Linked DNA regions of Homo sapiens. Each later gene encodes a partner of the first gene's protein in a complex. Each region holds a gene or a part of one and is shown on either strand. Other genes may lie near its edges. The genes, in order: PLK1, MIS18A, TCERG1 and CDC25C. A codon is read from its position in the direction of its gene.

Evidence for each region.
Region 2: the proteins of PLK1 (region 1) and MIS18A are in contact, whole or in part, in a crystal structure (PDB 8S30), measured with the Homo sapiens proteins. Residues at the interface, in NP_005021.2 of Homo sapiens: Lys413 (codon at 195), Trp414 (codon at 192), Val415 (codon at 189), Asp416 (codon at 186), Asp419 (codon at 177), Leu490, Leu491, Arg516, Asn533, Phe534, Phe535, His538, Lys540; in NP_061817.1 of Homo sapiens: Ser50 (codon at 4,810), Met51 (codon at 4,813), Trp52 (codon at 4,816), Ser53 (codon at 4,819), Ser54 (codon at 4,822), Met55 (codon at 4,825).
Region 3: the proteins of PLK1 (region 1) and TCERG1 are in contact, whole or in part, in a crystal structure (PDB 3Q1I), measured with the Homo sapiens proteins. Residues at the interface, in NP_005021.2 of Homo sapiens: Lys413 (codon at 195), Trp414 (codon at 192), Val415 (codon at 189), Asp416 (codon at 186), Tyr485, His489, Leu490, Leu491, Arg516, Phe534, Phe535, His538, Lys540; in NP_006697.2 of Homo sapiens: Pro101, Pro102, Pro103, Met104, Ser105, Ser106, Met107.
Region 4: the proteins of PLK1 (region 1) and CDC25C are in contact, whole or in part, in a crystal structure (PDB 3BZI), measured with the Homo sapiens proteins. Residues at the interface, in NP_005021.2 of Homo sapiens: Lys413 (codon at 195), Trp414 (codon at 192), Val415 (codon at 189), Asp416 (codon at 186), Tyr417 (codon at 183), Tyr485, Glu488, His489, Leu490, Leu491, Arg516, Phe534, His538, Lys540; in NP_001274511.1 of Homo sapiens: Leu126, Leu127, Cys128, Ser129, Thr130, Pro131, Asn132.

The regions. Positions count from the first base shown.
Region 1 is NC_000016.10:23,681,847-23,688,906, reverse strand, and holds part of PLK1 (serine/threonine-protein kinase PLK1), read right to left. Parts: intron 6,844-7,060; coding exon 6,750-6,843; intron 5,038-6,749; coding exon 4,818-5,037; intron 1,439-4,817; coding exon 1,283-1,438; intron 240-1,282; coding exon 162-239; intron 1-161. UniProt on the Homo sapiens protein: Serine/threonine-protein kinase that performs several important functions throughout M phase of the cell cycle, including the regulation of centrosome maturation and spindle assembly, the removal of cohesins from chromosome arms, the inactivation of anaphase-promoting complex/cyclosome (APC/C) inhibitors, and the regulation of mitotic exit and cytokinesis.
Region 2 is NC_000021.9:32,276,025-32,283,676, reverse strand, and holds the start of MIS18A (protein Mis18-alpha), read left to right. Parts: upstream 1-4,627; 5' UTR 4,628-4,662; coding exon 4,663-4,996; intron 4,997-7,652. UniProt on the Homo sapiens protein: Required for recruitment of CENPA to centromeres and normal chromosome segregation during mitosis.
Region 3 is NC_000005.10:146,442,355-146,450,345, reverse strand, and holds the start of TCERG1 (transcription elongation regulator 1), read right to left. Parts: upstream 3,014-7,991; 5' UTR 2,997-3,013; coding exon 2,938-2,996; exon of another isoform or gene 2,848-2,937; intron 1-2,847. UniProt on the Homo sapiens protein: Transcription factor that binds RNA polymerase II and inhibits the elongation of transcripts from target promoters. Regulates transcription elongation in a TATA box-dependent manner.
Region 4 is NC_000005.10:138,328,787-138,336,679, forward strand, and holds the start of CDC25C (M-phase inducer phosphatase 3), read right to left. Parts: upstream 3,019-7,893; 5' UTR 2,834-3,018; coding exon of another isoform or gene 2,809-2,833; intron 2,433-2,808; coding exon of another isoform or gene 2,395-2,432; coding exon 2,201-2,394; intron 862-2,200; coding exon 767-861; intron 1-766. UniProt on the Homo sapiens protein: Functions as a dosage-dependent inducer in mitotic control. Tyrosine protein phosphatase required for progression of the cell cycle. When phosphorylated, highly effective in activating G2 cells into prophase.

The DNA.
Region 1 (7,060 bases):
GGGAGTCAGGGAGCACTGGGAGCTGGAACTGGGAGGCCTGGGATGGAGAGAGGAGGGCACTGAGAACAGTACCTGGGAGCTCAAAAAGGCCAGAGTCTGTAACAACTGAAAAGGTCACCTGGCTGTGCCTGAGTCACCCACCTGTTCTGGAAGAAACCTACCAAGGCCGTACTTGTCCGAATAGTCCACCCACTTGCTGACCCAGAAGATGGGGATGCAGGCAGGATCCTCAGCCTCCTCTGAGACAGAAACAGACAGACAGTTAGTTGGTCAGGACCAGCCTCTTCCCCTCTGCTCCACACATGTGGCCCACACCAGGGAACAGGGAAGCCTGCTGGGCACCCCACCTGGGCTCAGTTGAGAGGCCTAGGGCCCCAGAGAAGAGCAAAGCAGGGCCTCTGCTGCCAGCAGGCTCAGACAAGCAGCAGCACAGATATCTCTGCAGAGAAAGTCTCAGCACAGCGCACCAAGTTCCACTCACTCCTTCATTCCACTGACCCATTTACTGAAGGCCTACCGTGCCAGGCACTGTTGCAGGTTCAGTGAGCAACAGACAAAACCCCAGCCTCCACGGAGCTTACACTGTGGTTGTAGGGGCAAAGACTAATCAATTTAAGTATGGGCAAAATATCAGTGACTTCTATCATGGTAAGAGTCAGAGGCATCTAGTTTTCCAGTTTGGAGTAATTAAGAAACTGTGAAGACAGAAGCCAGTTGCAAACACATCAAAATGTTACGTTCAGTGCATGCAACAAACCCCTTAATTTAAATCCAATAAACAAAGAAGGACATGTTGGACTATGTTGGGTGAGAAGTGTTATGGAGAACTATGCAGTGGGCAAGAGGATGAGAAGCACCAGCAGAGGGGCCAGGGAGATGCTCACAGAGCTGACACTGGAGCAGACACTTGAAGGAGGCCACAGTGTGAGCCATGTGGTGTCTGGAAGAAGTGCTTTCGTGCCAGGACCAGGGAGAAAGCCCTGAGGCTGCAGTACATCTGGGTCTGTTATTTCAAGGGTCTTGAAGATACAATAGGAACTTACTGAGCAAAAGAAACAGCGTATGAAGGTGGCACATCGAGGTGCTAGAGTAAAAAAGACGGATCAGAAAAGGCGGCAGGAGCCACGGAAGCAGGGCCTTGGATATCAGGAAATGGGGAAACCAATGGTCCTATGCAGACAGGGCCTGAACAAGTCACCAGTGCTTTGTTGGCCAAGCCTCCTCCTGCCTTTTCCAGATGCCCCAAGCAATCCTGCCCCGCCCAGGGCCCCGCAGTACCCACCTTGCCTGACCAGCCCACGCTCCGAGGGCTTGGAGGCATTGACACTGTGCAGCTGCTGCAGCATGTCACTGAGGTGGCAGTCGACCACCTCACCTGTCTCTCGAACCACTGGTTCTTCTTTTTCCCGGGGACGCTCAGGCAGGGGGTTCTCCAAGCCTAGGAAGGTGACAAAAACAGGGGCGTTGGGAAGGGCACGGGACTCCCCTGCCACAGCTGAAACTCTTCCGAAAGAAAAATTCTCTTAGCTACCACTGCTTTGGGGAAACTGAATCAGTGCCTGGTTACTAGAGCAGCAGCTGCCATGCTCAGGTGACAGGCACATAGTGCTCACTGTGAGGCAACAGATCTTCAGAAGCCGTGGCCTCTGACCCAACGGTGTGGCCCTGCAGGATGACCTGCCACTCAGGCAAACAGCTTGAAGGCACCAGCAGCTCAGAGCTGCCCAGCTTTGAGCAAAGAATGGAAAGCATCTTCAGCATCCAGGCAGATGGAAGGGCTGAGTAGTTCAGTTCATCCACAGAATGGATTCAGTAGGCATTTAAATAAAAACACAAGAAATTTTTTTCCACCCCAAAATTTGCTTTATATGCTTATTTATAACCAAAAAAGCTTGAAAAGATAACATGAAATTTTAACGCTGATTATATCTGGGCAGTAGAAACACAGATTATTCTTATTGTCTTTTTCCTTATTTATTTATTCCCCCACCACCATGTGCTAATTCTCCTTGTATAATATAAAATGTTTAAGTTTTCAATTAAAAAACGATGTCATGATAGGGACTTGGGTATGAAATAATAAGATATTAGGGATTTGCTTTAAACACTCCAGCAAGGCCAGGCCCAGTGGCTCACACTTGTAATCCCAACACTATGAGAGACCGAGGCAGGTAGATTGTTTGAGCTCAGGAGTTTGAGACCAGCCTGAGCAACATGGCAAAACCCTGTCTTTACTAAAAATACAGAAACTAGCTGGACATGGTGGCACACCTGTAGTCCTAGCTACTTGGGAGGCTGAGGTGGGAGAGTCACTTGAACGCAGGAGGTGGAGGCTGCAGTGAGCCATGATCTTGCCACAGCACTCCAGCCTGGGCAACAAAGCAAGAATGTCTCAAATAAATAATAATAAATAGTAAATAATAATTTTTTAAAACACCGGTAACAAAAAAGGCAGGAGGCTGGAATAAATAAAACAGTCTGTCCAAATGTTGATAACTAGTAAAAATAGATGAAACATGGGACTCATCATACAGTTCTCTCCACCTTCGGGTAACTGAAAATTTCCTTAAGTTTTTAAAATGCTATATAAAAAATTAAAACTGAAAGAAAAAAAGTAGGAGTCTGAGGCAGGAGGATCACTTGAGCTCAGGAGTTTGAGACCAGTGTGGGCAAGACCTCATCTCTACCAAAAATTTAAAAATTGGTCAGACGCGGTGGCACATGCCTAAAGTCTCAACTACTTGGGAGGCTGAGGCTGGAGGATCACTTGAGCCCAGGAGATCAAAGCTACTGTGAGGTACGACTGTGCCACTGCACTCCAGCCCGGGAGACAGAGCAAGACCCTGTCTCAAATTTAAAAAAATAAATAAAAGCAGAGAAATAAGTAATCCTTTAAAATATAGCCCAAAGAATAAAAATATCCATGAGTCTATTTCAGACATAACCAAATAAATAAATCAATCGGAGAGAAGGAACAGCTCTTCCTTACAGAAGAATTCCAATTATTAAATGCAAAAAAAGTGAGGAAAAGAAAAATTACCATTAGAACATCATTCTAGGCAGGGCACAGTGGCTCACACCTGTAAATCCTAACACTTTGGGAGGCCGAGGAGGATCACTTGAGGGCAGGAGTTTGAGATAAGCCTGGTCGACATAGTGAGATCTTGTCTTTACAAAAAAAAAATTTTTTTTTTTTTTTGAGACAGAGTCTCGCTCTGTTGCCCAGGCTGGAGTGCAGTGGTGAGACCTCGGCTCACTGCAACCTCCGCCTTCCAGGTTCAAGTGATTCTTGTGCCTCAGTGTCCCGAGTAGCTGAGATTACAGGTGCACACCACCACGCCCGGCTAGTCTTTTGTATTTTTAGTAGAGACAGCGTTTCGCCATGTTGCCCAGGCTGATCTCGAACTCCTGAGCTCGGGCAATCCACCCACCTCGGCCTCCCAAAGAAAAAAATTTTTTAATTAGCTGGGTATGGTGGCACATGCCTGTAGTCCTAGCTACTCTGGAGGGTAAGGCAGGGGGACTGTTTGAGCCCAGGATGTTGGGGCTGCAGTAAGCTATGAGTGAGCCACTGCATTCCAGCCTGGGTGACAGCAAGTCCTGAGACCTGTCTCAAAAAAAATTCCACTGTAATAATTGCTGCAAGGTATGTAGGAACTCTGGGGAGTTTTTTGTTGTTGTTGCAACTTTTCTGTATAAGCCTAAAATTATTCCAAAATGAAGTTTAAGAAAAACCAATACCTAAAAATTGAAAACTGAAAAATGAACTGAAGTTGTACATCAAATTGGTGATATATCCACAGAGAAAAAAAGTATTTCAAGTGACTTTTTAAAACTATGTATCCTTAGTGAAATCGAGATCATACCACTCCCCTCCAGCCTAGGAGACAGAGCCAGACCCTGTCTCAAAAAAAAAAAAAAAAAAAAAAAAAAAAAAAAAAAAAAAAAAGGCCGGGCCTGGTGGTTCACGCCTGTAATCTCAGCCCTTTGGGAGGCCGAGGCAGGCGGATCACGAGGTCAGGAGATTGAGACCATCCTGGCTAACACAGTGAAACCCCGTCTCTACTAAAAGATACAAAAAAACAGCCGGGCATGGTGGTGGGCGCCTGTAGTCCCAGCTACTCAGGAGGCTGAGGCAGGAGAACGGCGTGAACCCGGGAGGCAGAGCTTGCAGTGAGCCGGGATCACGCCACAAAAAAAAGGAAATTTTTATGTTTTTCAATGAATCATGAAAAAGTGTTAGAAATTTTTTTAAAGGCCAGATGTAGCAGCTCATGCCTGTCATCCCAACACTTTGGTGGAGGTGAAAGGATCGCTTGAGCCCAGGAGTTCCAAGACCAGCCTGGGCAACATGGCAAAACACTGTCTCTACAAAAATTAGAAAAGTCAGCCAGGCATGGTGGTGCATGCCTGACAGTCCCAGCTACTTGGGAGGCTGAGATGGGAGGATCAATTGAGCCCTAGAGTTGAAAGCTGCAGTGAGCTGTGATTGTGCCTCTGCACTCCAACCTGGAAAATAGAGGAGAGACCCTGTCTCCAAAAAATTAAATTAATTAAAGTGATTTGAAAGAATTTTTCAGGCTTGGCATTCAATCCATTTTCTTCTTCTTGGGCATGGTACGTTTATCCAGCCATGGTAAGGTCAGTCTTTCCTGGCAGGGCCGAGAAGCAGATGGGCATTGGAACCACGGATTGAAGGACAGAGGCCTGTCCTACTCCACACCTGAGCTCTCAGGGCCAGGGACTAAGCTGCACACACCCCTACAACCTGGGCTTTCTCTGGGGGGTCTGCTCTCTTACCCAGACCCTTGTTGTACCTTTATTGAGGACTGTGAGGGGCTTCCGGTTGCTGGGGTCCAGGCTGCTGGGAGCAATCGAAAACCTTGGTGGAATGGTCAGGCAGGTGATGGGGAGACGGGCAGGGATATAGCCAGAAGTAAAGAACTCGTCATTAAGCAGCTCGTTAATGGTTGGGCGGGCAGTGGGATCTGTCTGAAGCATCTTCTGGATGAGGGAGGCGGCCACGGGGTTGATGTGCTGGGGCAGAGAGAGGGACAGCCATAAGCAGAATGTGAAGGGGACCTGGAGTACAGTACGGCCTCAAAGGAGCTGCAGGTCCCCAGCCCACATGCAGCCCCCAGTCTCAAATACACCACAGGTCAGTGGTTCACAACTTGGTTCAATGCCAAGTTCTCCACTGTCAGCTTTACTGAGCACCATTGACAGAAGGGTCAATGGACTGTGGCCGAACACCAACTCACTTTCCTAGCACTCACTATGTGCCAGGAAAGCATTCTAAGCACTCCTGTGTTTAGCTCACTTAGCCCTCACCAACTCATCTAAGGGGTGGGGATCTATTATCATCCCTTTTTCACAGAGGAGGAAAGTGAGGCACAGAGAGGGTGAAGGCCTTGTCTAGCTGGCTTGATTCCATGCTGTCTCTGACAGTGAACTGACACTTTGTGATGGATTTACTATGTCTGTCCTTATGGTGACAGGCCTCCTGGCTTCACACAAGGACACTACACTTCAAACTGGCTGTGTGCTAGGCTTCTGCAGGAACCAGCTATTCCTTTAAATGTATTTCTGTTGGTGGTTGTGAAAATGCACACCATGGCCGGGCGCGGTGGCTCACGCCTGTAATCTCAGCACTTAGGGAGTCCGAAGCAGGTGGATCACAAGGTCAGGAGATCGAGACCATCCTGGCTAACACGGTCAAACCCTGTCTCTACCACAAATACAGAAAAAAGAAGCCGGGCATGGTGGCTGGTGCCTGTAGTTCCAGCTACTCAGGAGGCTGAGGCGGGAGAATGCCATGAACCTGGGAGGCAGAGCTTGCAGTGAGCCGAGATTGTACCACTGCATTCCAGCCTGGGCGACAGAGCGAGACTCCATCTCAAAAAAAAAAAAAAAAAAAAAAAGAAAATGCACACAACTATGCCATTAGGAAGCCCTGGGATTCACAGTGATTCATAATTCTGAGAGCACTCACCACATGCAAGGCACTCTGTGAGGTGCTCCAAGGCAGGAACTCCACTTTATATATGGAAACTATGGTTCAGAAGATGCAGGCCAGGCTGGGTATGGTGGCTCACGCCTGTAATCCCAGCACTTTGGGAGGCCAAGGCGGGTGGATCACCTGAGGTCAGGAGTTCGAGACCAGCCTGGCCAACATGGTGAAACCCCGTCTCTACTAAAAATACAAAAAAAAAAAAAAAAAGCCAGGCGAGGTGGTGGGTGCCTGTAATCCCAGCTACTTGGGAGGCTGAGGCAGGAGAATCGCTTGAACCTGGGAGGTGGAGGTTGCAGTGAGTCAAGATCATGCCACTGCACTGGGCAACAAGAGCAAAACTCCACCTCAAATAAAAAAAAAAAAAAAAAAGATGCAGGCCATTTGCCCAATGTGATCTCGCTAAGTGGCAGAATCCATTTGAATTAAGATAAACCATTTCTAAAGATTAAGCACTTTTGCCTCCTACTCCTTCCTACCTCCTTTGTTTTTTGCTTTTTACACAACTTTTGGGTTACCCAATCTCTTGAGAATCTGCCAACTCTCTCCCCCTAGAAAAAATGCTTATGTGCACATACATGTCAAGTTCTGTATGCAATTTCAGACACAGGCCCTCTCAAGCTCTGTGGCTACCTTAGAGGTGGGATAGACCTATTTCTGGTCCTAGGATATTGCTGGGCTCCATAAACAGCTTCTGGGGAAAACAAAATAAATGTAAACTTAAAGCATCATTAGTCACCTTGGGAATACTGTATTCATTCTTCTTGATCCGGAGGTAGGTCTCTTTTAGGCAAGAAGTCTCAAAAGGTGGTTTGCCCACTAACAAGGTATACCTGTAAGCACAAGGTAGGATTTGGCACCAGTCTCCCAGCCACAACCCAGACATGAGAGAAATCATCTCAGGGTCAGAACAAAGGTCAGGCATCCTCTGGACACTCACTCTAACTCTGGGGCCCCTGAAGACAATCCCTAAGTCCACTGAGCAGCCCCAGAAGCCATGACATTGGCTAGAATAAGCCCTCAGCAGAATACACATGGTGAGACCAGGAT
Region 2 (7,652 bases), on another chromosome or scaffold:
TGCTCTCTGTGTTCTTCTAAGGTCCTCTTAGGGAATAGACAATTCTGTAGGCACTTTCATTGCAAACAGAATCCCAGTGAAGAAATGGTAGCGTCAGTCCAAGATACTAATCAACATGGCAATCTTCACTACAGGATGAGAACTGTTTTCCCTTTGCCCCAGGTAGGACATAGGCCGCCTTAGCCTTCCCTGCCTCAGGTGGGGAAGGGGCTGTGGCTGGCCCTGCTCTTTCCCACCTCACCTGTTCCCTGCGGTTTTCATTTCTGCCTAGCCTGAGATGGGGAAAGTGGGGGATAGGACAGTTTTCACTTTGATATGGTTTGGCTCTGTGTTCCCACCCAAATCTCATCTTGAATTGCAATCTCCATGTGTTGAGGGAGGGGCGTGGTGGGAGTAATTGGATCATGGGGGCAGTTCCCCCAGGCTGTTCTCATGATAGTGAGTTCTCACGAGATCTGGTGGTTTTAAAGTGTGGCACCTCCCCTTGGCTTGCTCTCTCTCTCTCCTGCTGCCACGTAAGACGTGCTTTGCTTCCCCTTTGTCTTCCGCCATGATTGCAAGTTTCCTGAGGCCTCCCCAAGCCATGCAGAACTGTGAGTCAGTTAAACCTCTTTCCTTTATAAGTTACCCAGTCTCAAGTAGTTCTTTATAGCAGCATGAGAACGGACTAATACACACTTGAACTTGTTCTAACTTTGTTTTGCACTCTTAGGTAAGATCTAGTTAGACCTGACCCTCTCTCCTAGTCCCCTCGGGGACTCCCTGCACATCCCAAATCCCAGTGCATGCCCATGACCCACTGGGCAAGGCCTCATCTCAGGCTGGCTTTCCCTCTGCCCTGGTTCTCCAGGAGTGCTGTTCACACTTGACTCACCACTGGGGAGTCTTCGTGCTTCCAGGTTAGCTCCTTAGGCAGAAATTAAGACTCTAGGTGACATCCTGCCAGCAAAGTTCCGATCTGGCTGACAACCTACCTTGTTTGCCTTTGTTGTGCTACCAAAACACACGCAGCTTGACGCTCCTGCAGGTCACCCTGTCCCCAAGTGCCTGGGAACCAACAGGTATGTAAGTGTCTCCTCAAAGTCTCTTATCAGCCAAATTGAGGCAAGGAGGCAGATACCCTCATTTTCTCTATTGGGGAGGGGCCCATCTCCAAAGAGATCCTTCCAGTGAAGTCATCTTGGTCACGATTTTCTCCCTTCCTTTATATTCCCAAAGTGTGTGAGAGAGGTGTTTAAGAGAAGGAGGAAATCAGCTAGCATGGTGGCCCATGCCTGTAATCCCAGCACTTTGGGAGGTCGAGGTGGGTGGATTACCTGAGGTCAGGAGTTCAAGACCAGCCTGGTCAACATGGTAAAGCCCCGTCTCTACTAAAAATACAAAGATTAGCTGGGTGTGGTGGCACGTGCCTGTAATCCCAGCTACTCGGGAGGCTGAGGTGGGAGAATCCCTTGAACCTGGGAGGTGGAGGTTGCAGTGAGCTGAGATCATGTCACTGCACTCCAGCCTGAGTGACAGAGTGAGACTCCAAAAAAAAAAAAAATAATAATAAGCAGGAGGAAATCATCTCTCCTAAATCTACTCTGAAGATTCCCCCAGGAAGGAGGGCAATCTCTCTCACACACACTTTGATATCTCATTTTTACTTCATCTTGGAGTCTTAGTGGAAACTTCAATTTTAACATACTGTAACAGATTGCTACATACATTTTTGGTTGCTAGTAAAAACAAAACAACAATTGAAACTGGCTTCCACAATAACTGGAACTGGTTGGCTCACACAACTGGAAGGATCTAGAGATTGGGTGCTGTTTCTCTGTGATTCCCTTACTCAGATTGGGCAAAATTGAACTTGACAAGGCCAAGTTTTTATTCTGAGCCAATCCCTATTGCCAGGGGAGCAGCACGGGTCGCCAGGGGTAGGTGCCATCCCTGCCCCAATCGCTATGGAAGAGTCATGGTCATCCTGATTGATCGGGTTAAACCTCTAGGGACTCATTCCCGGAACTGGTGGTGAGAGTGGTGGAGATGGACTCAACCTTATCCAAATCTCCTAGTTAGATAACTAGGAAGTACGGTGAGAATGTAGTTTAGGAAGCAACCACAACCACAAACTACGAGGTCATCTTTTTCAAGCATCTCATTTTGTCCTCCCATAAATATGATGATTTTGTGGTTAGCTGAGGTTTTGTTTTGTTTTTTATTTTTTTGAGACAGGATCTCATTCTGTCACCCAGGCTGGAGTGCAATAGCATAATCACAGCTTACTGCAGCCTCGACCTCCCAAGCCCAACCCATCCTCCTGCCTCAGCCTCACAAGCAACTGGGACTACAGGGGCGCACCACCATGCCTGGCTAATTTTGAAATCTTTGTAGAGACAGGGTCTCTCTATGTTGCCCAGGTTGTTCTCAAACTCCTGGGCTCAAGTGACTCTCTCGCTTCAGCCTCCCAAAGTGCCGGGGTTACAGGCATGAGCCACCATGGCTAGCCTTGTTTTTATATTCATAATATTAATACAAACACACTTGTGCCTATAGAGGAATTCATTTTGCATCAGCCAACTTCTCCATGATGTGCAGGAGGCATCATGCCTACAAACCATGATATTCTGAAGGACCATGAAAATGTTTCAATTTTTTTAATCAAGAGCAATAAATGAACTTACAGGTCTAAAAATGTTTTATGATATCATTTTAATATAATCATCTTCATAGCAATGTGACTATAAAATGAAATTTTTATTAACTGTTTTATGGAGAGAAAGGCCTACTAAGGCAAAAATAGGGCCCCTGAAAGTCACCACGCAGCTCGGCCTTGTATTCCTTCTTTCCTGGGGCATCCTATCATAGAATTTAAGTATTGACAATAGGAACCCAAAGTCTGAGACAAGATGATCCTTTGAATCCCCAAGTAACTAGCCACTTACTTAAAGAACTCATGTGGATTGTATCAATGTTGTACCAGAGATATTATGCTTGAAAACAACAGTCCAGGAAGGTCAGGCTTGGCTCTACAAAAGTAGAAGGGGCAAAGTATGGTGAGGCATGCCTGTAGTTCCAGCTACTTGGGAGGCTGAGGCAGGAGGATCGCTTGAGGCCAGGAGTTCGAGACCAGCCTGGGCAACATACTGAAACATCATCTCTGAAAAAATAAAGAAAAGAAAAAAAAAAGCAGAAGGAAGGAAGGGAATTCTATGGGTAAAAAAAAAAAGCCTAAATTATCTAAAGCATTTTCTTCCAGTAAGAAGGTGATTAACATGAGCATGGTGTGCCAGGGTTTACAAAGTATTTTCATGAATATTAGAAAACTCGATCCTCATGAACAACTTGGTGTAGTACTGAAGAAACAGACTCCATTTACTCCATGAAGAATTAGACTCAGGGAAGGCAAACAGCCTTTTCCACAGTTCCCTACACTGTTACTACCTTGTGGAGGGAGGGGTAAGTTAACCAGGACCACTGACTCCAAAGCTTTTGCTTTTTGCTAGTGGCTGTAAGCACTAAAATTGGAAGTACATTTACATAAATAGTTTATGCAACCAAGCAAAATAGGCAGTGACTTGGGGGACACCCAGAGCGTAGTAGGAACAGAGTAGGTCCTTGCAGGTAGCTTTCTTCCCAGGTATACCACCAGACTGTCTGTGGTGCAGCTGGCTGGTTCCCCGCCAGCTTTCCCTCCTGACCTACGGTGTTTTAGGCAGAGGCTGGCTTTCTGGGGCAGCTGAGGAAATCTGTCCTTATCATCAACAAGGGATGCTTCTTCCTTGCAAGGACGAATTGTTCCTTGATCCAAGCAGCAGGGACACTTCCAGGCTTTCCAGGGGCACTGCTGCTTCCTCAACTTTTTCCTTGCAGTGACAGCCTGAGTGATCCGGGGCCCTTCCCAGGGTCTCATTCCAGGGATAGCAGTGCGCAAAAGGACCCTGTGATGAGGGACTCCTCTATCCCCTTCCTTCTCCACTTCATGGAAAGGAGGTCCCCAGGAGCCGACAAAATAGAGCAGTGGTCATCAAAAGTGGAGCTGCTTATATACAACTATAATTAGTCCACTTACAAAAAAGAAGAAAAAGGGTGGTGGTCTGGCACAGTGGCTTACGCTTGCGATCCTGGCATTTTGGGAGGCCGAGTAGGGAAGATCGCTTAAGGCTAGGAGTTCGAGACCGGCAACATAGAAAAACTCCCCCCCCCACCCCCCAAAAAAGGTTGGGCTGCCAATACTGACAGCGTGGGCACGCCTAGGAGCTTGTTAGAAATGCAGATTCTCGGGCTAACCTGCTACCTGCTGAACCAGAGTCTGCGAAGATGGAACCTGGCGATCTGCTTAAGAAGCTCGCCAGGCGGTTCTTAGACACTCAAGCTTGCAACCCGTAACTTTCTCAGTGACGCTGCCCCTCCCACGGAAAGGGGTGAATAATCCTTAGGAAGACAAGCAAACAGGTCTGCATCATCAATTTCTTCAGGCTGGAAAACCTGACGCAGGCGCAGTGACTATCACGCTTGGCCAAGGCCGCACGGCGCGCATGCGCACTAGAGGCCGCCCGCCGTCCCGCCCCCTTCAGGCTTTTGCCCCTTCTCGGCCTCCGCCACCGCTCCCCGCCCCGCGCATGAGCAGCGGCGGTTTTTTTTCCCATGGCGCTCTGGGGCGCGGGCGATTTGTAGGTAATGGCAGGCGTTCGGTCACTGAGGTGTAGCAGAGGATGCGCTGGCGGCTGTGAGTGCGGCGACAAGGGCAAATGCAGCGACTCCTCGCTGTTGGGCAAGAGACTCTCCGAAGACTCGAGCCGCCACCAGCTGTTGCAGAAGTGGGCGAGCATGTGGAGCTCCATGAGCGAAGACGCGTCGGTGGCCGACATGGAGAGGGCGCAGCTGGAGGAGGAGGCGGCGGCTGCGGAGGAGAGGCCGCTGGTGTTCCTGTGCTCCGGCTGCCGGCGGCCGCTGGGCGACTCGCTGAGCTGGGTGGCCAGCCAGGAGGACACCAACTGCATCCTGCTTCGCTGTCAGTTGGGTCGAGCCGGGCAGGGGGGGCGTGGGGTCGCCTTCTTCCAGGGGTGCCGCGCGTGGGCGGCCCGGGAGGAGGCGGGGGCTCCTTGGGGCTGCCCAGGGACTTTAAGAGCAAAAAGTCTGAGAGTGTGAGCTGTGGCAGGAAAAGGGGAGGAGGGTCACCCCTCCACTTTGGCTCTCGGGCGGTGGGTTCTTTTCTGGGGTCCCCGATCCCAGAAGAGCAGTGGTTGAATCAGCATCATCGTGAGCATTACTCAGAAACAAAGGGCGACAAAGAATAACACTTTTAAAGACCCTAAAAAAAGAGAAACAAATGGTCAACTAGACTGTAAGCACTTGAGGTGCAGCCAGTACTATTACTCCCCATAGAAATTAGCAGGCTGTTGGTGTATCAGCGGATGCCTCTACAGCCTCCAGTGATAGAGCCGCAGAGTTGACGGAACACAGTGCTATAGGGAAGAAAGGGAAGGAAACTTGCAATAAAAGCACCAACAACCCCATGAAAACTGGCGAGGAAGGAGGATGTAGCAAAAGAGTTCAGAAGAAGGCAGGAATTAGTTTCTAATCCTGGTTCTAGCAGTTACCTCTTACCTCTGTTGTTCCACTGTTCCCTCATTTTGATGTTTTTGCAGTATTTAGGGATAAAGTGGTTCACATATTTTTTATGAATTGGTGTAAGAATGGCTGTTGTTTTTGGATTGTGATTTTTCAAGATGAAGTTTTTTCTGTCTTTGAATGCCGTAAATGTTCCGATGGCAGTAATTCACCACCGGCTTATCGACGTTTCTGGAACGTTTTCCTTGGTGTAATACTGGGAATAAAGGAGCACACCAGTGTCCAGTAGTTAACTGAAAGTTGAGATTAACTCTTTGCACCTATCAAAATCAAACCAGGCCGAGCGCGGTGCCTCAGGCCTGTAATCCCAGCACTTTGGGAGGCCGAAGTGGGCGGATCACGAGATCCGGAGATTGAGACCATCCTTGCCAACATGGTGAATGAAACCCCATCTCTACTAAAAATACAAAAATTCCAGATCAGCCTCGCCAAAATAAAAAATTAGCCGGGCATGGTGGTGTGCGCCTGTAATCCTAGCCACTCCGGAGGCTGAGGCAGGAGAATCACTTGAACCCGGGAGGCGGAGGTTGCAGTGGGCCGAGATTGCGCCACTGCACTCCAGCCTGGAGACAGAGCGAGACAACGTCTCAAAAAAGAAAAAAAAGAAAAAAGCAGATTTTTGGTTAGGTAGGAAAAGCTCTTTGTTTGAATGAGATTCCCTTGTTTACATGTTTTTAAGGAATAACGTGTTTGATGTTACATCTTTCATTTTATTTGTTTGTTTCGATAGAGTGTATTTTTTGCCATGTGGGCTCTTTTCGTTGTTTTGCGTTACTTATAGAAAGACTGTTTTTGTTATTTAATTTTTATAACAATAGCTTTTAAATTTAAAACATAGTTCTAAAATAGTAGTTTAAAATTTAAAGAACTATACATTTTTTGATTTATCAGATTTAGATAATAGGATTTAACACCTCCCCACACCCCCCAGTAAAGACAAATAAATGAACTCGGATTCATTTCCATTCCTTCCTTACCCAATTTGAATTAGTTTAATTATTTTCATTTTGTCAAGGTTTATACATTTACATTCTGTACATTTACATTCTGTTCTGTAGCTATAACAGCCTAACTATGATTTTTTAAAATAGGATTATTTATTTAATAGGTTTTTTTTTAATAGGGTTATAGTGGGTTAACAGCCCTCTGTTGCCCAGGTTGGAGTACAGTGGCGCAATCATAGCTCACTGTATGTAACCTTGAACGCCTGCTCAAACTATCCTCCCGGCTCAGCTTCCCAAGTAGCTTGGGACTACAGATACACACTAACACCTGGCTAATCTTTAAATTTTTTGTAGAGACAGAGTCTTGCTATGTTGCTCAGGCTGATCTCAAACTCCTGGCCCCAAGCAATCCCCTGCTTCGGCCTCCTAAAGTGCTGGGAGTACAGATGTGAGTTACAGCACCCAATCCTATAAAGTTTATATAAATTGTTTTCCCAACTCCAGTACTCATTAACATAAAAAAGCTTCTTAATAGCTTTTTCATTCCTGAATTGTTTGATTAATCATTAGTGCTCCCCACGTCCACATCTCCAAGAAAATTTCAAGTTTATGTGCTAGAAAATATTTTCCTTTTTTTTTTTTTTTTTTTTTTTTTTGAGACAGAGTCTCACTGTGTTGCCCAGGCTGGAGTGCAGTGGTGCAGTCTCAGCTCACTGCAAGCTCCACCTCCCGGGTTCACGCTATTCTCCTGCCTCAGCCTCCTGAGTAGCTGGGACTGCAGGCTCCCGCCACCACACCCCGCTAATTTTTTTGTATCTTTAGTAGAGACGGGGTTTCACCATGTTAGCCAGGATGGTCTCGATCTCCTGACCTCATGATCCGCCTGCCTCGGCCTCCCAAAGTGCTGGGATTATTTTCCTGTATTTATAAGTGAATGCTAGCTTGGCTGCAGGTACAGTTCTTGGTCACGCTCTTTGCTTTTGACAGGTGCTGAGCAGCTGGTGCAAAAGCCTTGAGACTGGTTAAAGAGAATAAAGATAAGATTTAGGGAGGAAGGAAGAGATCAGAAACTGCAAGGCGTTGTAGTCTGTT
Region 3 (7,991 bases), on another chromosome or scaffold:
CTCTTTGCCGAGCATGTTCTTCCCCAGATTTTCACATAACTAGCTCCTTCTCATTACTCAGCCTCTAGTTCAAATGTCACCTCAAACTGTTTTCCCACTTCTGGCCTCTACAGGCCCTCTCAGGATCATTATTCCTAATTTGAGTTTTCGATTATGATAAATGCTATGAAGAAATCTCCCATTTACTTCTGTATTATCTTTAGCCACTAGTATATAGTTCCCTTTAGTATACTGTTGCAACACATTAAAACACATTATTGTTTTAATAATGATAGTAAAGTTCCTATATACCAGCATGGTTATACAGACATTATCCGTATTAACTCTTAATCCTCACTACAGCCCAATAAGGTAAGTTTGACACCATTTTTACAGAGGAAATGATAGCACAGAAAAATATTTTCTTAAGGCAGCTAGTCAGTGATAACACCAGAATATTCTTATTCTCATTTTATAGATAAGGAAATTTAGATTGCAAGTATCTTAAGTATTGATAGGTAAACAAAGGCTCTAGGGAAAGGATCTATACAAATGACTCTGGAAGTTACTTTAATGGTATTTGGAACGTCTATAAATTTTCCATCTATTGTGATTTGCATTCCTACCACTTACAACCTTTCTGAAAAACAAAAGCCTACTTGCATGAATAGAAGGAACAAAAATATTTCACAAGAACATCATGGAAATACAAACATAAGGTATTTTTCTACAATAGAAGTTCTCTATCCAGATATGCAATCTCCCCAATGCTAAAGACAATACTTTAACTGGAGGGGCAAGAAATAAAAAGATGCTACCGATATATGGGGGCAAATTGTATAAACTATGATTGAGGAGACCTGAGGTTTAGTCCAGACCCTGCCAACTACCCAGTGACCTTGTGTAAGTCACTTCACACTTACAGGCAGATTTAATCATTTGATGTGGTTGATTTCATTTACAATTTAGATGGCTCTTACTTAAGCTGGAAGCTCCTGCAGGACAAACCTCTTTTTTCGGTCTGGTTCAGGGCACTATTACCAGCACCTAGGTCAGCAACTGTCATGTAGCACACAATAAATGTCGGCCCAATAAGTGAAGTATCTTTAAATCTCCTATCTTCATTTATTTACAACATAACTACAGAACATCTCATTTGCCAGGCGGTTATGACAGACACACCATGAAGTACATTCAGGTTACAAATATAATGCAAAAATTAAGCCCCAACTTCTGCCATCAAAGAGGCCACATACACACCTAATTTCATGAGAAATGCTAAAATAAAGATCTGTACAGTATGCTCTGCAAGCAACTTCCAATCCAAGAGGCTACGGTATAAAATATTTGCAACAGGGCAAATTCATTTGCAAATTAAAGCTCTATTCAAATCAGTTGTGCAACAGTGTCTAGACTATTAATAAAGCCATTTGGATTTTTTTAAAGCTTTAGAAAGATACTTTCTAAAATGCAAAAGAATGTTCCCTAATAAATCCATCTGAAACTAGCTAAGTAACCTCCCTTTAAGATCGAAATCAGGAATAAACTTGGCATCGCTAATATTTAAAGATGCTGACAATTCACCTTGATCACTCATTAATACTGTATACATATGGAGTTTAAAGGATTTCAGATTCATCTCTGAAATAAAACAAAATTTCATTTCTGCCAAAGTGGAGATTTGTGTGTGCGACCATACAGAATCTGAAAGGCATTTTCCTCTTCTAAAACCTTGAATAACAATACCCATTTCCTTACACAATTTCATCTTAAGTTCAAGACAGTATCAACAGAGTCTTCATAATCTACCCTGCTCTTTTTCATTTTCAAACGTTGACAACAGCACAATTCAGAATGGGAGCTGAACATCTGAAATGCCATTTCTCCCATACAGAAAAAAACCAAAGTACCAAATACACATAAAGCATAATACCTCTTTTCCTCAAAAACCACTGACCAAAAGATTTCTCCAGGTCACTCTCATTTTACCAAATTTTAATTACAAACTCATAGACACTGAGGTTCCAGGGGAAAAAAAGGTCACTGCACTGTTCAAGGAAATGGCATGAGTAGTAGACGAATAGAACGCCAATTGGGATTGCAGGCTCTGAAACCTGACTGCCTGAGTTCAAGCCACTTCCTGGAGCCACAAATCCGCCTATGCAATCTTATTCTACTGACTCAACCTCCACGAGGCTGTTATCTCACCTGTAAGATGGGCGAGTAACAACTGAAGACCCCTCTGGTCTGTGGCCTGCAAAATGTTAATAGCAACTACTCCAAAGGGTGGTTGTGAGGATTAAATGAGACAAACCTAAGTAAAGGGTTTACTGGCACACGGTAAGTGCCTAATAAGGGGTTGCTACTGTTGTTGTTACTCACAACTACAGGATAATAAGGAATAAAGGGATGAAAAAAGGAAGAAAAGCCACAGAAGTTAAGAAAGGCAAGCAATGAGGGGGATGAAATGAAAGGGCAAACGTGGGGAGCCCAAAGAGCCGCGGAGGGCGTGGAGAAGGCTTAGCCAGAAGTGGCGAGGGGTACAGGGAAAGTAACTGCGGAGTGCAGAGACGTCGATGAGGAAAATCAGGCCCGCAGCGGAGCGCGGCCTGGGGACAGACTCAGGTCGGCCGAGACGGAGGCGACACGCGGCTGAGGCGGGGCCCAAAGGCGGGAGCACCGCGCCCGGCCAGAGGGCTGCAGGCCGCGAGAGGCGGCGAGGCCCCAAGAAAGCACTAGGAAGCAGCCAGGGAACGCGCAGGAGGCCCTGGCCCAGCCCGGGCCCGGCTCTCATTCAAGCCACCTTCCCCTTCCCCCTTCTTAAACCCCATGCGGTCCCGGCCCGGGCCGCCCGGCTCCGCTACCCACCGTCCGCCCCGGATCTCCACATGGCAGGTCTAGCGTCTAGCCTCTGGGGCTCTCGTGAGCAGAGATGTGAAGGAGGGCAGCGTTCCTTACCTGAGCTCCCCCGGGTTGAATCGTTCACTCTCGCCCCCGTCCCCGCCACGCTCCGCCATTACAGAGGGCCGCGTTCATCCACCCGCCGACCCGACGTCTCCTATTGGCTAGAAAAATCGTCAATCCCCAACGAGAGAGGCGGAGACAGCAGAAGTCTGAGATGCGGTTGGTCAAACTTTCCATCAATCTTCGAAATGGGGGCGATATGTTCTTTGCTATTGGGCAAGGCGCCCGCCGACTTTGAAAGCGGTATGAAGACAGCCAGTTGATTGGTGACTCGGGGGCTTTATGGGAAATGAGATTTTAGCAGTGAGGAACCGCCGGCGCCCTCTCGCGGTAAGCAGAACTAAGTCCTCCCAAGTTCGGCTCAGCCTGCGGTAGCCACGTGTCTGTCGGCTTCCAGGAGAGCCAATTGTGGAGCCATATTGGCCAGTAGTAGCTCAGGCGGAGAGCATTTCCACTGGGCAAGCCAATCAAAATCGACCTGGGCCGCGCCTAAACCGATTGCACAGTTGCTGTGGAAAGCCGCTATTTCCTAGCTTTACAGTAGCAGGAGTCTTAAGTCACCACTCAGCTCTATATCCATGTTATTAAATAATATATTATTAATTACAAGAATACCTCCCAAATTATACTAAACCGTTGCAAGCCAATAGGTGTTATAAGTTGCTGCATTAAGAAAGGTAAATTGGCGAAGGCAAGCCTCTTTGCAATTTACAGCTTAACCACGTCTCCCTCGATCTCAAAATGTGCTTGTCTGAAATTAGCACACCCAGAATACCAGACAATTCTGAATATTTATTTAGTTTTTCTAATTAACAAAAAAAAAAGTTTTGGATTTGGGGTTTCAAAGGCACAATGAAGATGAGCCCTTTTATTAAAGTCGTAAAAATATTAAAATAATACTAATAGATAAATTTTACTTGGACCTAACCATGTAGCAAACCCGGATCTAAGTATGTCAGGTACGTTAACTCTTTTAAGATTCAAAAATTGCTAGGAGGTGGGTAACATAGTCACTGTTTGTAGATGAGCTTGAGGCACAGAGAAGTTAAGTAACTTGCCCAAGGTCACACATCTACTAAATAGCAGAGCCTGGTCTTAACCCCAGTCAGCGTAGTAGCAAAGCAGCACTCTTAAATACTGTAAGCCTAAATAATTGGATCCACATAAAAACATGTGCACAAATGTTCACAGCAGCAATATTCATAATAGCCAAAAAGTATTGTAACAACCCAATGACCATCAGCTGATGCATGGTTAAGAAGCATGGTATAGGCCGGGCGCGGTGGCCCAAACCTGTAATCCCAGCACTTTGGGAGGCCTAGACGGGCGGATCACGAGGTCAGGAGATCAAGACCATCCTGGCTCACACGGTGAAACCCTGTCTCTACTAAAAACAAATAGCCCGGCGTGGTGGCGGGCGCCTGTAGTCCCAGCTACTCGGGAGGCTGTGGCAGGAGAATGGCGTGAACCCCGGAGGCAGAGCTTGCAGTGAGCAGAGATCGCGCCACTGCACTCCAGCCTGGGCAACAGAGCGAGACTCCGTCTCAAAAAAAAAAGAAACATGGTATAACTGTACAATGAAATATTGTTCAGACATAAAAAGCCACATACAAAAAGGCCGCCTGTTGTATGATTCCATTTACATGAAATATGATGAAATTGCATTGCATTTCAGGCAAATACATACAGACAGAAAGTAGAACAGTGGTTTCCAGGAGGTAGAGGGGAATGAGGAATTGGAAGTGACTGCTGATGGATATGGAATGTCTTTTTGGATGATAAAAATGTTCTGGAATTGGCGCTGATGGTTGCACAACTTTGTGAATATACTAAAACCCATTGAATTCTATACTATTTATTTATTTATTTACTTATTTTGAGAGGGAGTGTCACTCTGTCACCCAGGCTGGAGTGCAGTGGCATGATATCAGCTCACTGCAACCTCCGCCTCCCAGGCTCAAGCGATCCTCACACTTCAGCCTCCCAAGTAGCTCCCACAGGCCTCCGCCACCACATCCAGCTAATTTTTTATATTTTTGGTAAAGACGGGGTTTTGCCATGTTGGCCAGGCTGGTCTTGAACTCCTGAGCTGAAGTGATCTGCCCACCTTGGCCTCCCAAAGTGCTGGGATTACAGGTGTGAGCCACTGCATACAGCCAACTCGTATACTTTAAAAGGTGAATTTTATTGTATGTGAATTATATTTTAATTCAAAAACACCATTCTACACTGAATTCCAGTTAAATATTCAAAATCAATTAAATATGATAAATTGTGATAAAGGCTTCACACAGTTCTGAGCATGAGTAATTGGAGGAGAGCATGGTGAAAATTTTGTTAAAGATGTGACATTTGAGGCTGGGTGTGGTGCCACAGGCCTGTAATCCCAGCACTTTGGGAGGCCAAGGCGGGAGGACTGCTTGAGTTTAGGAGTTTGAAACCAGCCTGAGCAAAATGGTGAGACCTCACCACTACAAAAAATCAAAAATATTAGCCAGGCATTGTGGTGCATGACTGTGGTCCCAGCTACTTGACAGGCAGAGGTGGGAGGGCCGCTTGAGCCCACTTGAGTCGAGGCTACTGTGAGCTGTAATTGCAGCACCGCACTCCAGCGTGGGATACAGAGTGAGACACTGTCTTAAAAAAGAAAAAAAAAAAGGTGTGGCATTTGAACAAACTATAGTTTGACTAAAAGTTGGGAGTTAGATCCCTTTTTCAACATCAGTGTGTATCCCCAAGTTCTGGTCAATATTCTGAAAATAATACTGGTATAGATGGCTCATTACAAACTAATTCCTACTAAAAAAAGATTCAAAATAGAAAGCTTATAGAAAATAAGTCACTAGCATATATAAAAGATGAAAACAGGCCGGGCGCTGTGGCTCACGCCTGTAATTCCAGCACTTTGGGAGGCCGAGGCAGGTGGATCACCTGAGGATTTCGAGACCAGCGTGGCCAACATGGCAAAACCCCGTCTCTACTGAAAAAATACAAAAATTAGCTAGGCATGGTGGCACGTGCCTATAGTCCCAGCTACTTGGGAAGCTGAGGCAGGAGAATCGCTTAAACCTGGGAGGCAGAGGTTGCAGTGAGCTGAGATCTCGCCATTGCACTCCAGCCTGTGTGACAGAGTGAGACTTCATCTCAAATAAAAAATGAAAACAAACTGTCAGTTGAAGAAACTCCTTGCAGGTATTAAAAATTTTATTATCTGATAGTTTTTATTATGTTATTTTTATCTAAATATACTTTAAGATATTTATATTATAGTATAATCTTTTAAATAGATTAAGTATATACATATGTATATCTATCACATGTAATGATAATCATATGTGTATATATGTATATATTTCATTATTTCATTGCTATAGTGTATCCCCATAAAAATGTCCTTCAAATTCAGGTAGTTTGGCTCAATAGTTATTTATAACATATTGCAAATTTCTGACTTGAACTATGTCTACACAGCTTTTCTAGAGTGAACCATTTTATTGAATCAAAATGAAAAAGGAATTGAAGAGATTCAGTGCATCTTTTAAGAGACCAAATGGACTTTCCGATAGTCAAAGCTTGATAACTATTTGGATACTGATAATGTACACAACTATATAGAACAGAATAGCAAATACCATCCTTGCTTAATTGGTAACCATTGAATTATTGACCCCCCAAAATTAGCATATCAAGATGAAATGAAGAGAAAATGTTGGTTTCAGACAAATTAATTCATCAGGGCTTAGGTCCTGCTGTGAAGACACTCATCAGAATTGGCTCTTGAGAACTGGTTCCAATGCAGAATCAGGCTTTAAAAAAATAACTGCCATTTTTGAGCACCTATCTTAAATCCATAGGAGGTACATTACATACACTATTTCCAGTCCTTTCAACAGCCCTGCAAGGTGGATGTATTGTCCCCAATTTACAAATGAGGAAACTGAGGCTCAGACAGATGATAGGACTGATGCAAGGCGACATTCAGATAGCTGAAAAGAGGGGAAGCCAGAATTCAAACACGTGTGTGTCTAACACCAAAGCCAGTTAGAGACCACTCAATCCTGTGTCTCACCCAAATCACAATGTATCATTTCTTCCTCTTCCCTCTAGACTGTAAATGCTTTAAAAAGACTGTTTTCCTGGCTGAAGCCCCCAGCTCCTAATAACACACTTATTAACCCATAAACTGTGCAGCTATGTTATTCCTAACTGGAAATACTGGTCTTTGAAATATTTAAAGAGATCTCAGAAATAGAGAATCCCAGGCTGGATGCATCTGCTAGCTCCCTCACAGGCAGTATGGATAGAGGTTGCTAATGAGCTTCGGGGTAAATTAGGTCAGGATTCTAGTCCTGGCTCTATCAACTACTGGCTGTACAATCTTGAGCAAGTCACTTCTCACAGCTTCGACCTTTTTATTTGGAAAACAAAGAGTTGCCCTGAGATTTCATAAATGAACTATTTACCATGGCATAGGCAGCAACTAAAAATCATCAATAAGTAATATTTGTTTACAGAGTTTCTCTAGGGCTGCTATGGTCTGGATTCCTATGTTGAAATTCTTACCCACAAGGTGATTGTATTAGGATGCGAGGCCTTTGGGAGGTGACTAGGTCATGGGGGCAGAACCCTATGAATGTTACTAGAGCGCTTGTAAAAGAGGCCCAGGAGCAACCTCTCGCCCTCTTCTGCCACATGAGGTTAGAGTGAGAAGGTCGTCTGAGGAAGCTAGTTCTCACCTGACACCAAATCTGCTGGCACCTTGACCTTGGACTCTCCAGTCTCTAGAATGTGAGAAATAAATCTCTATTGTTTATGAACCACCCAGTCTATGGTATTTTGTTACAGCAGCCAGAATGGACTGAAAAACGGCATTTTGCTAGCCCGTGCTTTACTGACAAGGTCAAAATCAAGATAGGGTCCACCTTTTTGCATATATATAAGTGAGGACAATGAGATAGCCAAGAAACTAGAACTAAATAAACAATATTACTCCATGAATAGGAAGTGTCATACTAAATCAACATACAGGATTATAGCAGAAAATAATA
Region 4 (7,893 bases), on another chromosome or scaffold:
TTATGGGTAGAAAAGAAAGGTTATCACTCAGAAAATCTGAAATTAGAATTCTGGAAGGTTAACTTATGAAACATTCCTTTTGGAATATTTCATATAAAACATATAAAAATTAGTTGACAACATATTTCTTTTTTTTTGAGATGCAGTCTCGCTCTGTCGCCAGGCGGGAGTGCATTGGTGCTATCTTGGCTCACTGCAACCTCCACCTCCCGGGTTCAAGAGATTCTCCTGCCTCAGCCTCCCCAGTAGCTGGGCCTACAGGCACGTGCCACCATGCCAAACTAACTTTTGTATTTTTAGTAGAGATGGGGTTTCACCATGTTGGCCAGGATGGTCTCGATCTCTTGACCTCGTGACCCGCCCGCCTTGCCCTCCCAAAGTGCTGGGATTACAGGCATGAGCCACTGCACCTGGCCAACAACATATTTCTTTATGCTGGTTTCTTTGCCTCTGCTGAGATTAGACTGAGGCACAAAACTTCTCATATCCTAATGACTATACTTTCATTCCCACCATTAATCAGTCAACAAAATATATTCCTACTTGTCTAACATTTTCATATGCAAAGTAGCTCCTATTAGTGTTATTATCTTTCTCTTCCCATTGGCTTAATCATTCTCAAAAATCCTCTAGTTACCCACAAAATTCCATCTCTCTAGGCAGATTCTTTTTATACTTTCACCACCTTCCGTCTCTATCCTCCTTCCCTGTTTTCTCCCTTAAAAGTTATTCTTCCCTTTGAGGCCTTTATCTCCCTTCTCCCTACCAGTTTCATCAAGGTCTGCAGAAGTGGTAAGCTGAGTGGCAGTTATCTCCCCACTGCTAAGATTCGAAAGATCGAGGCAACGTTTTGGGGTTCCTCTGTTGAGACATAATAGTACATCGAAATTCCCATTAGATTATTATATCCTTAAAAGTCAAAGATCATGTCATCCTCTTCTTTTTTTTTTTTTTTTTTTTTTGCAGTGGAGTCTTGCTCTGTCCCCCCAGCTCAAGTGCAGTGGCACGATCTTGGCTCACTGCAACCTCCGCCTCCCGGGTTCAAGCGATTCTCCTGCCTCAGCCTCCCAAATAGCTGGGATCACAGGCGCCTGCCACCACGCCCAGCTAATTTTTGTATTTGTAGTAGAGATGGGGCTTCACCATGTCAGCCAGGCTGGTCTTAAACTCCTAACCTCAGGTGATCCACCCACCTCGGCCTTCCAAAGTGCTGGGATTACAGGTGTGAGCCACAACGCCTGGCCAAGCCTGTTCATTTGAAACACCCCTTAATGACTATCAGATCATCTGAACAGTGTCCAAATAAATCTAATTGCTTTTGGGAAATATATCAGACTGGGCTGAGAAAAATCTCCCACTACCATAATCTGTACTTTATTTTCTCCTTACCAACATACTGAAACAGATAATTTTTTTTTTTTTAAATGAGGCCCAGAGTTTATTGGCCGAGGGGGATCTTGACTCCACATTCCCGGTCCTGAGCACTATGAACACAGGCTTGATTTCTCCCTGGGGTCCCTAGTTTTTCTCAGGTACTACTTCTCTTTGCTAGTTGAGACATGGTATGATCAGAATTCAAAGTACAACTGCAATAACACTAATATTAATACTAATAAAGTGACCGACTCGTAATGCAGCGGTTTTCAAAGACTTTTCCCAGTTATCACATCATTTGATTCTCACAAGATCCTAGTAAGATAGGAAGCGATTATTATTTCTTTGTCTTTTCTTTTCTTTTTGAGATAGAGTCTCACTCTGTTTCCCAGGCTGAAGTGCAGTGAGGCGATCTTGGCTAACTGCAGCCTCCACCTCCCGGGCTCAAGCAATCCTCCCACCTCAGCCTCCCGAGTTGCTGGGACTATAGGTGCACACCACCACACTCAGCTAACTTTTAATATTTTTTGTAGAGACGGCGTCTTGCCATGTTGCCCAGGCTGGTCTTGAACTCCTAGACTCAGGCGATCCGCCCTCCTTGGCCTCCCAAAGTGCGGAGATTACAGGCATGAGCCACCTCGCCTGGCTGAGATTATTTCTTGTCACAGAAAAGAAGGTGAGACTCAAAAGGGTTACACAGTCAAGGGCAGAGTTGAGACTTAAAGCCTGACCTTTGAGCCGGGATAATTGAAAACAAACCAACAAACAAACCCAACTGTTTGGAAATAGCAAAGGCAATACAGTGTAAAAATAAAAGTATATTTACCCAGACAAAATGCTTAGGTTTGCAGAATCACCAAGAAATTTGCCCACTGGAGTTCTAGGGACATCTGGACAGACGGTAAAGGAAGTGTCTCTCTCCAGGAGCAGGTTTAACATTTTCCTTTGATTAGACCTAAAACTGGGTCCTGAGCCAGAGCTTCCTTCCTCTCTTGTGGATGAGAAGAGTTCCGTAGACATGGTCTTCGAATTCTCACCAGGAGAAAAACAAAACCTAGCTAGGAGGAAAACGTCATCTAAATCGGTACATCACAGTTCCCTCAGCTTTCCTAAACTCCTCCACCCTTTCCAGCCAGGCGAATCAACACTGGAAGAGGGGCAACCCCGAAGGGTGATTCACAGCCTGGCTTAAGGTTAGAACCTGAATTCACCGACGAGAGGCAACCTTAGGACCTTAAAGATGGAATGAAGAGAGGATTTTGACTTGTTCCACGCCACACAGCTCGAGACTCCTGACTAGAAAGAACCCGGGTCTCGTAACTCGCGATAGTCCCCATTCGGCCCTCCCAACCTCTGTCTGTGGGGGCCCGACTGGACCCTAAGGGGGACAATGGGGTCTCCGTGATTCCGTGGCGGAGACGGCTGCGGACTTACCTCAAGCCTGGAGTCTGAGGCTTGCCTACAAGAGGAGAGAAAGTAGATAGGGATCGGACACAGGCGAAGACTTGAGCAGAATGAAAGGAAATCTAGGGGAAAGGAGGTAGTTAACTAGATTGCAGCTCTGCCTTCCGACTGGGTAGGCCAACGTCGGACTCAGAGTCTTCCCTGAGCAGAAGGCCAAAGTTACGGCCTCTGAGCAAGAATATCAACAGCCGCAGGCGTTGACCATTCAAACCTTCCGCCAGCCCAGTAACCTATCCCCGCTCGCCTCTAAGCTGCGTCAGCCAATCTCCGCGCGCGCGCCCAGGGCCTCATGGCCTATCGTTGGGCTCGCAGATCACCTGGGGGCGTGTGCTTGCTCTGGAAATGGTAAGACTTGCCCCGCCCCATAGCCAGAGCAGGATAGTGTTTGGCCCACCAGCGTTAGGCAGGCTGCGGGGTAAGCTCCGCCTCACGGGGAGCCTGGCGCATCATTGGCTCTCCCTCTCACCAATCTCCACACCCTTTCTGTTTTCCTCGTTCCCTCAGCCCCACGAACCCCGGGAGATTTAAACCGCGCCTTACTAGTGATGTCCATTCACTAGGGTAATACTAGGAGAGATTATTTTGGGTGGAGGGTGTTGTAAGCGTTTCATTTTCTTCGCTTCTTTCTCGTGCCGTTTTCGCGGACGTTTTCTTCTAAGTTTTGCTGGCCTTCCACGGGAGATGGAGCGTTTGCTGCCGGCGTGGCAAGTGTTGGGGCGAGACGGGTGTGTGTGTTTATGCTGAGAGGCATTAGCCCCTTCCAAGAGCTTTGTTTGGTGTTTCTTTTAGTGTGCAGCATCTCAGAGACTCTAGCTCACGTGGGTAAAAAGAAATTCCGTTGCAGGGAAAGTGGAGGAATTAAATCATCTTGGTATAATCCTTATCGCAATCCAGAGGACCTCAAAGATTGGTTATTAATGAAAATTTGAACATTGACGAGGTGATATTTATAAATTATTGGCCGGACGCGTTGGCCCACACCTGTAATCCCAGCACTTTGGGAGGCCGAGGCGGGCAGATTACATGAGGTCAGGGGTTCAAAACCAGCCTGGCCAACATGATGAAACCCCGTCTCTACTAAAAATACAAAATTTAGCCGGTTGTGGTGGCACACACCTGTAATCCCAGCTACTTGGGAGGCTGAGGCATGAGAACTGCTTGAACTCGGGAGACAGAGGTTGCGCCACTGCACTCCAGCCTGGGCATTAGAGTGAAACAAACAAAAAGACATTCCTAATGTTAGGGATTTGCTTTTAAATAATCCTGTGCTGGGGGAAGGTATTGATGATACAAGATTGACCCTGACTGTTGAGTGATGGGGGCAGGAGGGTCCATCATATCTGTGCTTCTCAAGGTTTAATTTGCACACTAACCACCTGAGGACCTGCTAAATGCAGATTCTGATTCGGGATGTCTGGGTTGCGGTTGCGGCCCAAGATTCTGCCCTTCTAACAAGCCCCCAGCTGATGGTGAGGTAGCTGGTCCTACGACCATACTTTGCGTGGTAAGGTATTACCCCATACTTCTTACTTCAATGTATATTTGAAAATTTCCATAATAAAAATGTTCAAAATAACCTTGGAAGCTCTTTAAGATGTAGGCTCCAAAAACGATAATTCGATAGGTCTAAAGTGGGGTCATTATCAAGGCCCCCAGGTGCTACCCATGCAGACGGCTTGCAGATCATGCTTTGAGAAACAAAAGTCAAAATGCAACTTGTGTCTGTTGTCAGGATCTTGGTGGTGGTAGTGGCTGAGAGGCACAGTGTAGCCAGCTGGTTTTTATCCTAATACCCTTTTCATCTGCAGAACCTGCTTCCCCAGAAAGGAGATGTGTGAAGATTCTTTGTCCTCTAGGATACAGACAGTGAGTGTAGGAGTTAGCACAGAACCTTGCTATGCCAGGTGAGTTTGAAAATCAGGCTGGGGATTAAGGGAGTGTGGGATGAGTTGTTATCTGCTTTGACGACTACAGTATAATCACACTTTGTGGGAAATTGTATACTTCCCTGCAGGTGGGAAGTAGAGACAAAGTTATTCTCTATTGGTGGCAAAAGCAGATAGATTATGGCAAGTGCACACCTGGCTACCAGTGCTTTCTGCACCAGGTCCTCAAGTAAGTGCAGTTGTGGGTGGTCACAACAAAGGTGTCAGCCAAGTGGCTTTAGTTCAATGTCAGGTGATGGAAATATACTAAAATCTGAGCACTCTGACAAAGTTGCAGCATTCCTAAAACAAATTCTCCAAAAATCTAGCCCCAAAAATAAGTTTCTGAGATTTCTCAAATGGAACTTATACACCTAGCTCTTAAGAGTATTTTTTTTTTTTTTAAGATGGAGTCTCGCTCTCTCCCGGGCTAGAGTACAGTGGCGCAATCTTGGCCCACTGCAACCTCTGCCTCCTGGGTTCAAGTTATTCTCCTGCCTCAGCCTCCCGAGTAGCTGGGACTACAGGTGCCCGCCACCACGCCTGGCTGATTTTTGTATTTTTAATAGAGGTGGGGTTTCACCATATTGTCCAGGCTGTTCTGGAACTCCTGACCTCAAATGATCCACCCACCTCGGCCTCCCAAAGTGCTGGGATTACAGGCATGAGCCACTGCGCCCGGCCGCCCTTAAGACTTTTTACAGATGCAGTGGTGCGCCTGTAGTCCCAGCTACTTGGGAGGATCACTTGAGCCCAGGAGTTTGAGGCCAGCCTGGGCAACATAGTGAGACTGTCTCCTAAAAACAACAACAAAAAAACTTTTTTTTTTTGAGACAGTTTCTTTCTTGTTGCCTAGGCTGGAGTGCAATGGCGCAATCTCAGCTCACTGCAACCTCTGTTCAAGTGATTCTCTTGCCTCAGCCTCCTGAGTAGCTGGGATTACAGGCATGCGCCACCACACCTGGCTAATTTTTGTATTTTTAGTTGAGACAGGGTTTCGCTGTGTTGGCCAGGCTGGTCTCAAACTCCTGACCTGAGGTAATCCACCCACCTCGGCCTCCCAAAGTGCTGGGATTACAGGTGTGAGCCACCATGCCCAGCCAACAAAACTCTTAAAAGCTCTACGTTTGTTAATGAGGTTGTTTTCCTAGCAAACATTTTCACTATCTCCTCATGATTCCAGCTGGCTTAGCTAATTGCAACATACTTAGCTAATTACATGTAAGTTTACATGCATACATACAAACTGTGAAATGGTAGAATTATTTTAAAGGGAAGTCAAATATTGTCTTTTATATCTTGATTTATGAGGGTGTTGGAATATATCTAAGTTATCCTTCCCAGAAGAAAGAATATTAGGGAGGTGGGAAGTTTGGTGTTTAATCTGATTTGAAGATTTACTTTTTCTGTTGGATTGAGGGCATTGATCCTATGTCATCCTTGGGGAATCCCTATCTAGGCTCCTGATTCACTGTGATAAGCAGTGAGCTGTGTTCCTTCACCTTGACCTCAGTCTGACTCATACATGTTGTTGCCAGGGCACAGTGACAGCCCGGGCTTCACCCTGAAACACCAAACAAGAACAGGAGGTACAGCCATCACTCCTGGGATGCCCAGATCAGGCAGTGGAGAAGAGCCCTGCATTCCTGGGATCCTCCCAGCCAGCCTCTGCAGGGCAGAGGGGCTGAGGGGTGTGTTTTCTATTCCTGGTTCTTTTTATGACTGGTAGGCTTAGCCCTACTTCTCCCCACTTTGCAGAGGTTTAGCTTTCACTGGGTGAAAAGGGAAGGTCTGAATCGAGTGCATGTTCCTCCAACTCGGCTGTTCCTTCCTAGGCAGGGAATGAAGAGTCTTAGAACCAATGGATTCCACTCCTTTGGATGACCTCCTGGATGACTGGCTCCAGGCCCTGGAGCCCTCAGAATATGGATGGAGAGTATCCTTTGCTGAAACCCACTGGAGCAGGGTCACAGATGGGGTTTGGCCCATGAGGGCATAATTAAGATGCAGTTCAAAGCAGTGGCTCAAGAACAAAAGACTAAAAAGGGGGCAGCAGGGAAAGAGCAGGACATGAGTAAAAAATCCTTGGGAACTAAAAGTGGAATAAGGAGATTTAATTATGGGTAGGAGTGTTGGGCTGCACTGGGAGGCCATTTTATAGATGACGAAAGGGGATGTAACCTTCCTTTGAAATGAGGCCTGAAACTTGACTTGCAGGGTTTTTTTTTTTGTTTTGTTTTTTTTGTTTTGTTTTGGGTCTCAGTTTCTTTCAATGTTTTGCAAATGAGCCAATGCCTACTTTTAACTCAACCATTTAATTCATAATAATTAAATTATTAATTTAATTAATAATAAAAAGGTGAACAGCTTAGTGGTGAAAAGCAAGGGCTTTTAGACTGCTTTTTGAGAGTACCTTTGCCTACCATGTGGGCAGTCACTTAACTTCTTGGGCTGTTTCATTTGTCAAAGAGAAGGTTTTGTTTCATTTGATGATTGTAAGAAAAAATGAGAATATATATCAAAGTATGTAGGTCAAGTGTGGTGGTTCACACCTGGAATCCCAGCACTTCGTTTTTTGTTCATTTGTTTTTTTTTTTTTTTGAGACAGAGTCTCATTCTGTTGCCCAGGCTGGAGTGCAGTGGCACAATCTCGGCTCACTGCAATCTCTGCCTCCCCGGTTCAAGCGATTCTCCTGCCTCAGCCTCCCGAGTAGCTGGGATTACAGATGGGCGCCACAATGCCCAGCTAATTTTTGTATTTTTTAGTAGAGACGGGGTTTCACTTTGTTGCCAGGCTGGTCTCGAACTCCTGACCTCAGGTGATCCGTCTGCCTCAGCCTCCCAAAGTGCTAGGATTACAGGTGTGAGACACCACGCCAATCCCAGCACTTTGTGAGGCCAAGATGGGAAGATTGTTTGAGGCCAGGAGTTTGAGACTACCCTGGGCAACATAGCAAGACGCCTCTCTCTACAAAAATAGAAATAAATATGCTGGGCATGGTGGCACACCCCTGTAGTTCTAGCTATTCAGGAGGCTGAGATGGAAAGGATTGCTTGAGCCCAGAAGTTCAAGGCTGCAGTGAGCTGTGATCGCCTCAGTGCACTCCAGCCTGAGCAACAGCAAGACCCT